Regions from separate parts of the Homo sapiens genome. Here regions 2 and 3 are each linked to region 1. Evidence: fine-mapped expression QTL. A gene starts in region 1. Each other region holds a variant in brackets. All regions are shown on one strand. Distances are between the middles of the regions. Region 1 holds the start of ARHGAP40 (Rho GTPase activating protein 40). Region 2 overlaps ARHGAP40 (Rho GTPase activating protein 40). Region 3 overlaps ARHGAP40 (Rho GTPase activating protein 40).

What was found. PIP is the estimated chance that this variant, and not a neighbour inherited with it, causes the effect. A credible set is the group of variants that fine-mapping cannot tell apart.
Region 2: its variant is the best candidate, but not a certain one, in a credible set for the expression of ARHGAP40 in testis (GTEx, PIP 0.81).
Region 3: its variant is the best candidate, but not a certain one, in a credible set for the expression of ARHGAP40 in skin (TwinsUK, PIP 0.65).

The regions. Positions count from the first base shown.
Region 1 is chr20:38,600,438-38,603,196 of GRCh38, forward strand. It overlaps ARHGAP40 (Rho GTPase activating protein 40), which reads left to right and starts at 1,372. Exons shown (of 15, transcript NM_001164431.3): 1 at 1,372-1,642. The coding sequence starts at 1,506. RefSeq lists an enhancer at 1-494.
Region 2 is chr20:38,624,014-38,626,772 of GRCh38, forward strand. All of the region lies in intron 2 of ARHGAP40 (Rho GTPase activating protein 40), which reads left to right. Among named protein-coding and RNA genes, the nearest start is that of ARHGAP40, 24 kb to the left of the region's middle. The variant C/T (reference allele first, on the strand shown) is at 1,294.
Region 3 is chr20:38,628,650-38,631,408 of GRCh38, forward strand. It overlaps ARHGAP40 (Rho GTPase activating protein 40), which reads left to right. Exons shown (of 15, transcript NM_001164431.3): 4 at 278-353; 5 at 853-1,001. Among named protein-coding and RNA genes, the nearest start is that of ARHGAP40, 28 kb to the left of the region's middle. The variant CTTTCTTTCTTTCTTTCTT/C (reference allele first, on the strand shown) is at 1,415.

The DNA.
Region 1 (2,759 bases):
TGCACCCACTTCGGCTGACAATTCACCTACATATTGGACCCCAGCTCCTTGGCCTCACAGTGGCATGGTTCCCTTGTCTCCTCCTCAGGAGGAGGCTCAGGAGAAGTGGATGGGTGGTCTTCTGCACAGCCCTGGTCTGCAGGTTCCAGCCAGTGACAGCCACCTGAAACTTGGGGTTTTTCAGGACCCTTTGTGTTGCGAGGCCTTTCCCGTCTTTAATGCCAGAACCATGCATGCTCCTGGGCTCTATGGCTCCCGTGGGGCCCTGTTTTCAGTTTCTTGGGGCCCATTTCTTGCCTCCCTAAGGCCAGAACAGAGCTTCAGACTGTGGGGACCCATAGACTTGGGGGCCCTCCTTGATGAGGACTCTGGGGCCTCTCTTCTTGGAGTACAGGTGAATATGCTTCCTGGAAAGATTCACTGACACCCGGAGGCTTAGAGGAGGGCAGGGCGGGCCCGGGCAATCTGGGGAAGTCTATGGCATTCAGTCCTGGCCAGAGGGCAAGAGAAGGGGCTCATGGTCCAAAATGGATGCAGGGAATAGGACACCGCCAGGGAAGCTGGCAGGAGCGCTTCTCATACGTTCCCCAAATGCCCTACTGCAACACCTTGGCTTGTGTCCTTGTTGGCACCTGGAAACCCCTTCCCACTCCCCACCCTGACACTCAGCCTCTGCTCTCCTCTCAGCTGAGTCCACACTCTCCTGCTCTTTGCTTTCAGACACTCTGGTCGCCTTCCCCCAGGGCCCCTACAGAGCTCCATAAAGATTTGCTAAGTGAATGAATGAGTTCTCATTTTACAGAAGAGGGGGTTAAATTCCCTGGGTTTTCCCCTTACCCAGCCTTTCCCCAGCTAGTTCCTCCTCCTTTACATCCCAGCCAAAAGACCAATCCCGGGAGGCTCTCCGGACGCCCCCTCACTTTGCCACTCCCATTTCCTGCTCCCTTCCTATCCTCCCGCCCCCGTGCCCAGGTCCTGCTCTCTTTACACCCTGACATCTTCCTGCTTGCTTTTTTCCTGTCTCCTGGCAAATGTCACCATCCCCATTTCACAGAGGAGGAAACCGAGGCTCAGAGAAGCCTCAGAGGGAATAGCCCAGCCAGATAAAAACCCCTGGGTCGTGAGCACGTTCTTCCACCCATAGTAGCCAGGTGCTTTATTCATGTGGTTTTACTCTGAAATCGGGATGGCTGTAGGTAATAATAGTGGCCATGCAAATCATATTTCATGACAGTTTTTGAAAGGCGCCGTTTCCACCTCGCAGTTCCAGTGCAGGCGGGTGGGACTCAGTGGTGTGTGTGTGTGCGGCGAGTGCCTGCCTGTAGGTGGCCCCGGCCAAGCCAGCCCCGCCCCAGGAGGAGGCTGAACATTAGTCCTGCATGAGGGTGTCTGGGAACTGGGTGCGCCACGGGGGCCCTACCTCACTCCTCCCTCTCACATTGCCGATCGAGTCAGCCCCACGGCGGCAGCACCACGACCGACCGGGATCCTCGAGGTGCCAGCCCATGGCCGAGCCTGCCCTCCTCCCCGCCGCCCAGATGGAGAGGCTGGCCCCAGGGCCCCTAGCCTCACCGTGTCCTCGGATCCCGCGGGCCCGCATTGCCAGGCGCTGCGCCCAGCGCTGGGCCGACCTGGGCTGCAGGTACAGGGGTCACGGGAGCGGGAGGGAAGTTGGCCCTACTATGCACCAGGGGCATGTGCGGTCTGTCTTCACAACATCCCTGTGAGGCAAGAATCTTCCTCCATCGTACAGATGAGGAAACAGAGGCTTGGAGAGCCCGGTCACCTGGCTGTCAAGTGGTGGAGATGGCTTTTAGCCCTAGTCCATGGGACTCCAAACCCAGAGCCTTCCTGGGACACAGCATTGCCCTGGGTTCAGGCTACTGGCCTCCTGCAGGGGTCACTGATTTTCAGATTCTTAGAGACCGTGAGTGACGCCAGTATGTGCCATTTCCTCTTCCTCTGGGTGTAGAGTCTTAGGGGGCCCAGGGGCTCAAGATTCAGGAGTCTCTGGGTCAAGTTTCTGGGTCAGTGTGGCCGTGTGGTCACCTCGGCTGAGAACTGGTCACCCCTTATTCCTGCTCAGCCTGCCACTGACAGCCAGACCAGAATTTTCAAATAGTCATTTCCCCCACTCTGATTACATCATATTACAATTTGATTATTATAGAAAGTCAAACAGTGCAGGAATACTGTACAGGAATACATATGTTCATTCTTGAAAACTTACTACTGTTAAAGTTTTGACATATACCTTGGGAGAACTTTTTGACATATGTAAACCTAAACTTGTATAGTTTTACACAAATAGGCTCTTGTGTTACATGTGCTTGTAAGGTTTTCCCCTGCAACCCCTCAATTAATGTTATGGACATATTTACATGTCAGTAACATAAAGATCCAATTCATTCACTTTAGTGGCCTGCCAGGATCCAACTTTATGGATATCTTTGGTTAATTTGAATCAGTTCCTGGCTAATGGACATTTAGGTTGGTTCCAATTTTTAACGATTCTAAGCAATACAGCAATGAACATCTCTGGGGACTTGCATGGGTAAAATTCACATCCTAGACTTGTAGTTGCAAGTTTAAAAGGAATGTTAGAATCTGAATAGACCCTGCCCTCCAAAAGTGTTCTAGCTTGGAACACACCTGCAGCAGGAGACCCCCATTGCCCCATTCATTTGCCACCCAAGGACCTGAAGACTAGACGTGGTCTGTACTCAGAAAGCAGATTCAGGGAGCAGGTGATCCTGATC
Region 2 (2,759 bases), 24 kb after region 1:
CACCTCAAGCTTAGAAGCATAATGCAGCAATAATCAATTATTATGACTATTACTATACCTCACTGTTGGAGGGGTTGAGTGGGCTCAGCTAGGTGGTTCTTGCTCAGGGCCTCTCATGCAGTTACAATCAAATGGTAGCTGGGGCTGGACTCATCTCAAAAGATTTCTCATCTATGTGCCTGGTGGTGGATGTGACCATCAGGGGGCCTCATCTGGGATTATCATCTGGAATACCTGCATGAGGCCTCCACATGTGGCCTGGGCTTCCTCACAGCATGGCGGCTGGGTTCCAAGCACAAGACCAAGAGAGAGAGCTGGGTAGAAGCTGTCTTGCTGCTTATGACCCAGCTTTAGAAGAAAGACAACATTGCTTCTGCTGCATTCTGTTACCCTGCATGCAGCTATGTTCAAGGGGAGGGGAATTAGACTCCACCCCTTGATGGGGTGAGAGTCAAAGAATTTGGGGACGTGTAATAAAGCCACCAGATCATAACTTACCAGGCTTTACATAATTGGCTTCGTGCCTCCTCTCTGCCTCTTCTCCTCCCACCCTGACTGGCTGTCACTCTACTTCTGTCCTCGGGCCTCCTTGCTGGTCCTTGACCCTAAAAGCACTTTCCTGCCTCAAGTCCTTTGGTTCTCTCTGCTCCCTTGGCCTCAAATGCTCTTGCCCCAGGCATCTGCATGGCTTGTTCTCTCCAGTCAGGACTGGGCTCAAATGTTACCTCCTCAGAGAGGTCTTCACCAGCTTCCCTACACAAAATAGCACCCCTGCCCCATCACTCTCTAGCCCCTGCCCTACTCTGTTCGTTGCTGCAGCAATGATCACTGCCTGACTTTACCTAGTGCACTTCACTGTGCATGTGTCTGTGACCCCCACTAGAATGTAACTTCCATGAGGCCAGGGACATCATCGGCCCTTTTCACTGCTGTGTCCACAGTGCCTAGAACAGAGCCAAGCACATTCCCCTCCTCCATCCTTACTTGTTCAGCAGATGAGGGAATGAAAGGGCTCCACATGGAACCCTTCCTGGTTTGGCATGTAATTCAGCTGGGCTTGCCCCTGGTTGGCAAAACAGACCACGTGGTGATGCAGACCTCCTAAGGGCCTAATAGTCTCATGCAGTGCCTCCAAGTGTAAATGTAAAAACATCCCTGGTTACACTAGAAGTGGTTTCAGGAGATGCCCTGCATAGGAGGTCCTCCATGTGGCCTCTCTGGAATCATGATGTGGCCAGCAATCTAATTTCCCACAATACACAGGGAGTGGAGTCAGAGTGGGTCAGAGAGAAG[C/T]CACTTTGAGCAACCAAATAAACACAGGAGCTTTTTTAGACTCACAGGGCTGAGGGATCCTGAGTGGCATGGAGCCAAGACTGGTTTTTTTTTTTCCTTTCTTTTCTTTTTATTTATTTATTTAATTTTTGAAACGGAGTTTCACTCTGTCACCCAGACTGGGGTGCAGTGGCACAATCTCAGCCCACTGCAACCTCCATCTCCTGGGTTCAAGCGATTCTCCTGCCTCAGCCTCCCAAGTAGTTGGGACTACTGGCATTCACCACCACACCCGTCTAATTTTCGTATTTTTAGTAGAGATGGGGTTTCGCCATGTTGGCCGGGCTGGTCTTGAAATCCTGATCTCAGGTGATCTGCCCACCTTGGCCTCCCAAAGTGCTGGGATTACAGGCATGAGCCACCATGCCTGGTCATCTTTTCTTTTTATTCGGACACCAACTTGAACCAGAGGGATTGTTAATAATTTATTTTTCCCATCAATGTCTACTCATGGCAGGTGATGTTGGATGCTCCATTTATGGTGGGGATCTTGTTTCCTTTTAAAATAGATGTGTTTTAGTAAAAAATGTAGCCCATGATTAAGGGGATATATTTGGTAAGGAATTTTACAGGGACAATTAGATACAGATAAAAATTATAAAGGTGGTTGGTGAATGCCTACATTTCAAGAAACAGTGGCTCATTGAAAGGATCCTGTACAAACAAAAAAATGTCTGGCATCATGATAGAATCAGTACCTCCACCAGCCAGCACAAGTCAGGAATGGACCCACAACATTGCAACTGCCCTGGAGGCATCTGTTCTGGTTCCCAAGTGCAGGGAAAGTGTTGGGGGAAGACTTGGATTATTTGCAAAACCCAGGCTGCCATAAAAGCAGTTTTGTTTGAGTTTTTAAAACACTTATTACCTTGTTGACTAACTGGGTCAACACTGGGTACAACTGTACACCCCACCAATCCTCTCACACATGTGTTCAATTTCCAGTAAGAGCTCTTGTCCATTTCCCCCATGATAAGGCCAGTGTTTCTCAAGTGTGGTCTGAAGACCCTATTGCATTAGAATAATCTGAGGAAGACATTCGAAGTGCAGATTCTCAGGCCCGAGGCCTGAACTCCTGGAACAGAATCCCTGGAGGTAAGACCCGAGATCCTGAAATCTCAACACACCCTCCCATTCCAGTTAATGGTTTTGCTATGGGACTATGAGAGTTTCCTTAGGAAGCACAGTAGAGGGGACAATTCCAACACAAATAAGGTCTTGAATATGGAGGACTTCCCAAAGGGACATCAACACCCAGCACCAACTTCCCAAGGGGACACCATGTGACCCTGTAGTGGTCTCTGCCAGATTTTGGATAAGTGGGTTCATTACTTTGGAGAGAAGTGGGTCCAAAATCTGAACATGCAGGGCCCTTCACCCACCTCTGTTTTCCAGGGATTGCTATGTTATGGGTTGACATCCATACA
Region 3 (2,759 bases), 28 kb after region 1:
GAAGCCTGATAGGTTGTGGGCATCATCTTTCTTGGAGCACCTCTGAAGTGGCATAGCAGTGATTAAAACCACAGGCTTTGGAGCCAGCCAGACTTGGGCCCCAGTGCCCATTCCCCGACTTAGCAGCTGTGGGACTTTGGGCAAGTAACTCAGCCTCTCTGGGCTTCAGTGGCTCCATCTGTGAAAAGGGGTTGTGGGTGGCTTCTGTCTCCCAGGGTTGTGTGAGCATTGTCAGCTTCCCACATGAGTAATTGGGCACTGTCTGTAATTTGCATAGAAAATGTCGTCAGAGAATGGCGACTCCGGTATGAAGGGGGCCCAGCTCAGTTCCGGGGCCTCTAAGTTTCCTCCAGGTAAGTGGTCTTCATTCTCCAGGGCCCTGAGAATCCTCCAGGCTGCATAAAGGGCTGCTCTGTGAAGTAAGAGAATGTGCACACCTCCCAGCATTTCCTGCTTCCTGCTGACTCCCTGCCTTCCCTGCTCAAGGGCAGTAGGGAGGAGCCCTGAGGGGACAGGTTGGGCCCTTAAGTGAGCTGTTGCCATCAGGCCCATGGGGCTCAAGATGGGAAAATTCTCTTCCTGGGCAATTGGCCTTAGCTGGGAAATCACTTCCTGGGGCAGTGAGGGTCTTAGCTAGGAAATCATTTCCTGGGGGCAATGGGCCATAGCTAGGAAATCACTTCCTGGGCAATGAGCCTGAGCCCTAAACCTAATGATTTGATCCTGGGGCTTTGAACTTGAGCTTGGGAGCTCACTTCTTAGGACTAAGGGCCTAAGTCCCGAACCCAAGCACTTGCTTCCTGGCAGCCAGTTCTCACTGCCTTTCTCTGCTTTGTTTCCCCCGCCCCGCAGCAGCAGAGCCTGGGGGGCTGCAGGAGCAGGCTGGGAGGGAAGAAGCCTTCAACATGGACTCTGCCTACTCAGAACAAGCTGCGGTGCTCCTGCAGAGGAGCAGGCCATCCCGGGGAGGCACCTCTGCCTGGGGCAAGTGTTCCCTGCCGGTGAGGATGCTGTCCACAGGGCTGGTTGGCTAGGTCCCCCTGTGCTCAGGCACCAGCACCCATCTCTTCACACCTTCCACACTGACAGGCATCCAGCACAAAAGTTGTTAATTCATTCATTCATTTAATTCGTACCACAAATATTTACTGAGTGACCGCTGGGTATCAAGACTGGGGAGCAGGATGCTTACAGTCTAACAGTCCTGTCAGTATTGTCTCCATGCTCTTTGTTTTTATCCTTAGAAAGCCCTCCCTCCTCCAGCAAGCTCATAACTGTCCATCAACATGTTTTTCTAGTTACTTTTAAAATTAATTTTAGTGCCTGGAGTGACAGAGAGAGACCCAATATTTTAGTTCTGTTCTTTCCTCCCTCTCTCCCTCCCTCCCTTCCCTCCTCCTCCTCCTTCTTTTTT[CTTTCTTTCTTTCTTTCTT/C]TTTCTTTCTTTCTTTCTTTGTTTTTCTTTTCTTTCTCTTTCTTTCCTTTCTTTCTCCTCCCTCCTTCCCTCCCTCCCTCCCTTCCTTCCTTCCTTCTTTCCTTCCTTCCTTTTCTTCTTCCTTTCTTTCCTTCTTTCCTTCTTTTTTTTTTCTTTGAGACAAGGTCTCACTCTGTCACCCAGGCGGGAGTGCAGTGGTACCATCCCAGCTCACTGCAGCCTCAACCTCCCAGGCTCAAGCTATCCTTACACCTCAGTCTCTCAAGTAGCTAGGACTACAGTTGCATGCCACCATGCCCAGCTAATTTTTAAAATTTTTTTTAGAGTTAGGTTCTTCCTACATTGCCCAGGCTGGTCTCAAACTCCTGGGCTCAAGCAATCCTCCAGCCTCAGCCTCCCAAAGTGCTGGGATTACAGGTGTGAGCCACTGCACCTGGCCGTTCTTTTTTCCCAAAATATTCAGTTATCCCAGCATAGTTCCTTCCAAATAGGATGTAATCATTGATAGTTAGGTTTTTAAAGATTGAACTATAACTCGCTGTTAAGTGCACAGATATTTACCAGGTACAGCTTGGTGTGTATGCCCGTGTAAATACCAACAAATGAGTACAGAAACTTCCTCCCTTGCTTGATGGCTTGTAATATGGAAAAAGAAAGAAAGAAAGAAACTTCCTACCCCACCACCCCCTCAGTGCCCGCATGCCCTTCCCAGGTAATTCCTTTCCCTGCAGAATAACCACTATTCTGACTTCTCTCATGGAGTAAATATAGTCTTTCACAGTCCCTCTATTACTAAAGGAAGTGTTTCTTCTTTGACCACGTGATGATGCAGTCGATGCAATCTTAGGTAACATTTTACTGAGGGCTGCCCTGGCCCAGGGCATTGTTCCCAAGGCTTCCAGTGCCCTCATTGCTCCCTGACTATATGATAGAAAGAAAGAGAAGTAGGATCGGGCACAGTGGCTCACGCCTGTAATCCCAGCAATTTGGGAGGCCAAGGCGAGAGGATTGCTTGAGTCTAGGAGTTTGAAACCAGCCTGGGCAACATAACAATACCCCATCTCTACAAAAAATTTTTGAAATAGCCAGGTGTGATGGTGCAGGCCTGTAGTCTTAGCCACTTGGGAGGCTGAGGCAGGAGGATCACTTGTACCTGGAGGTTGAAGCTGCAGTGAGCTATGATTGCACCACTGCTCTCCAGCCTGGGCCACAGAGCAAGACCTAAAAAAAAAAAAAAAAAAAAAGAGAAGTGGCATATGTTAGTCTGTTTTTACACTGCTGATAAAGGCATGAAAGAGGTTTAATGGACTTACAGTTCCACATGGCT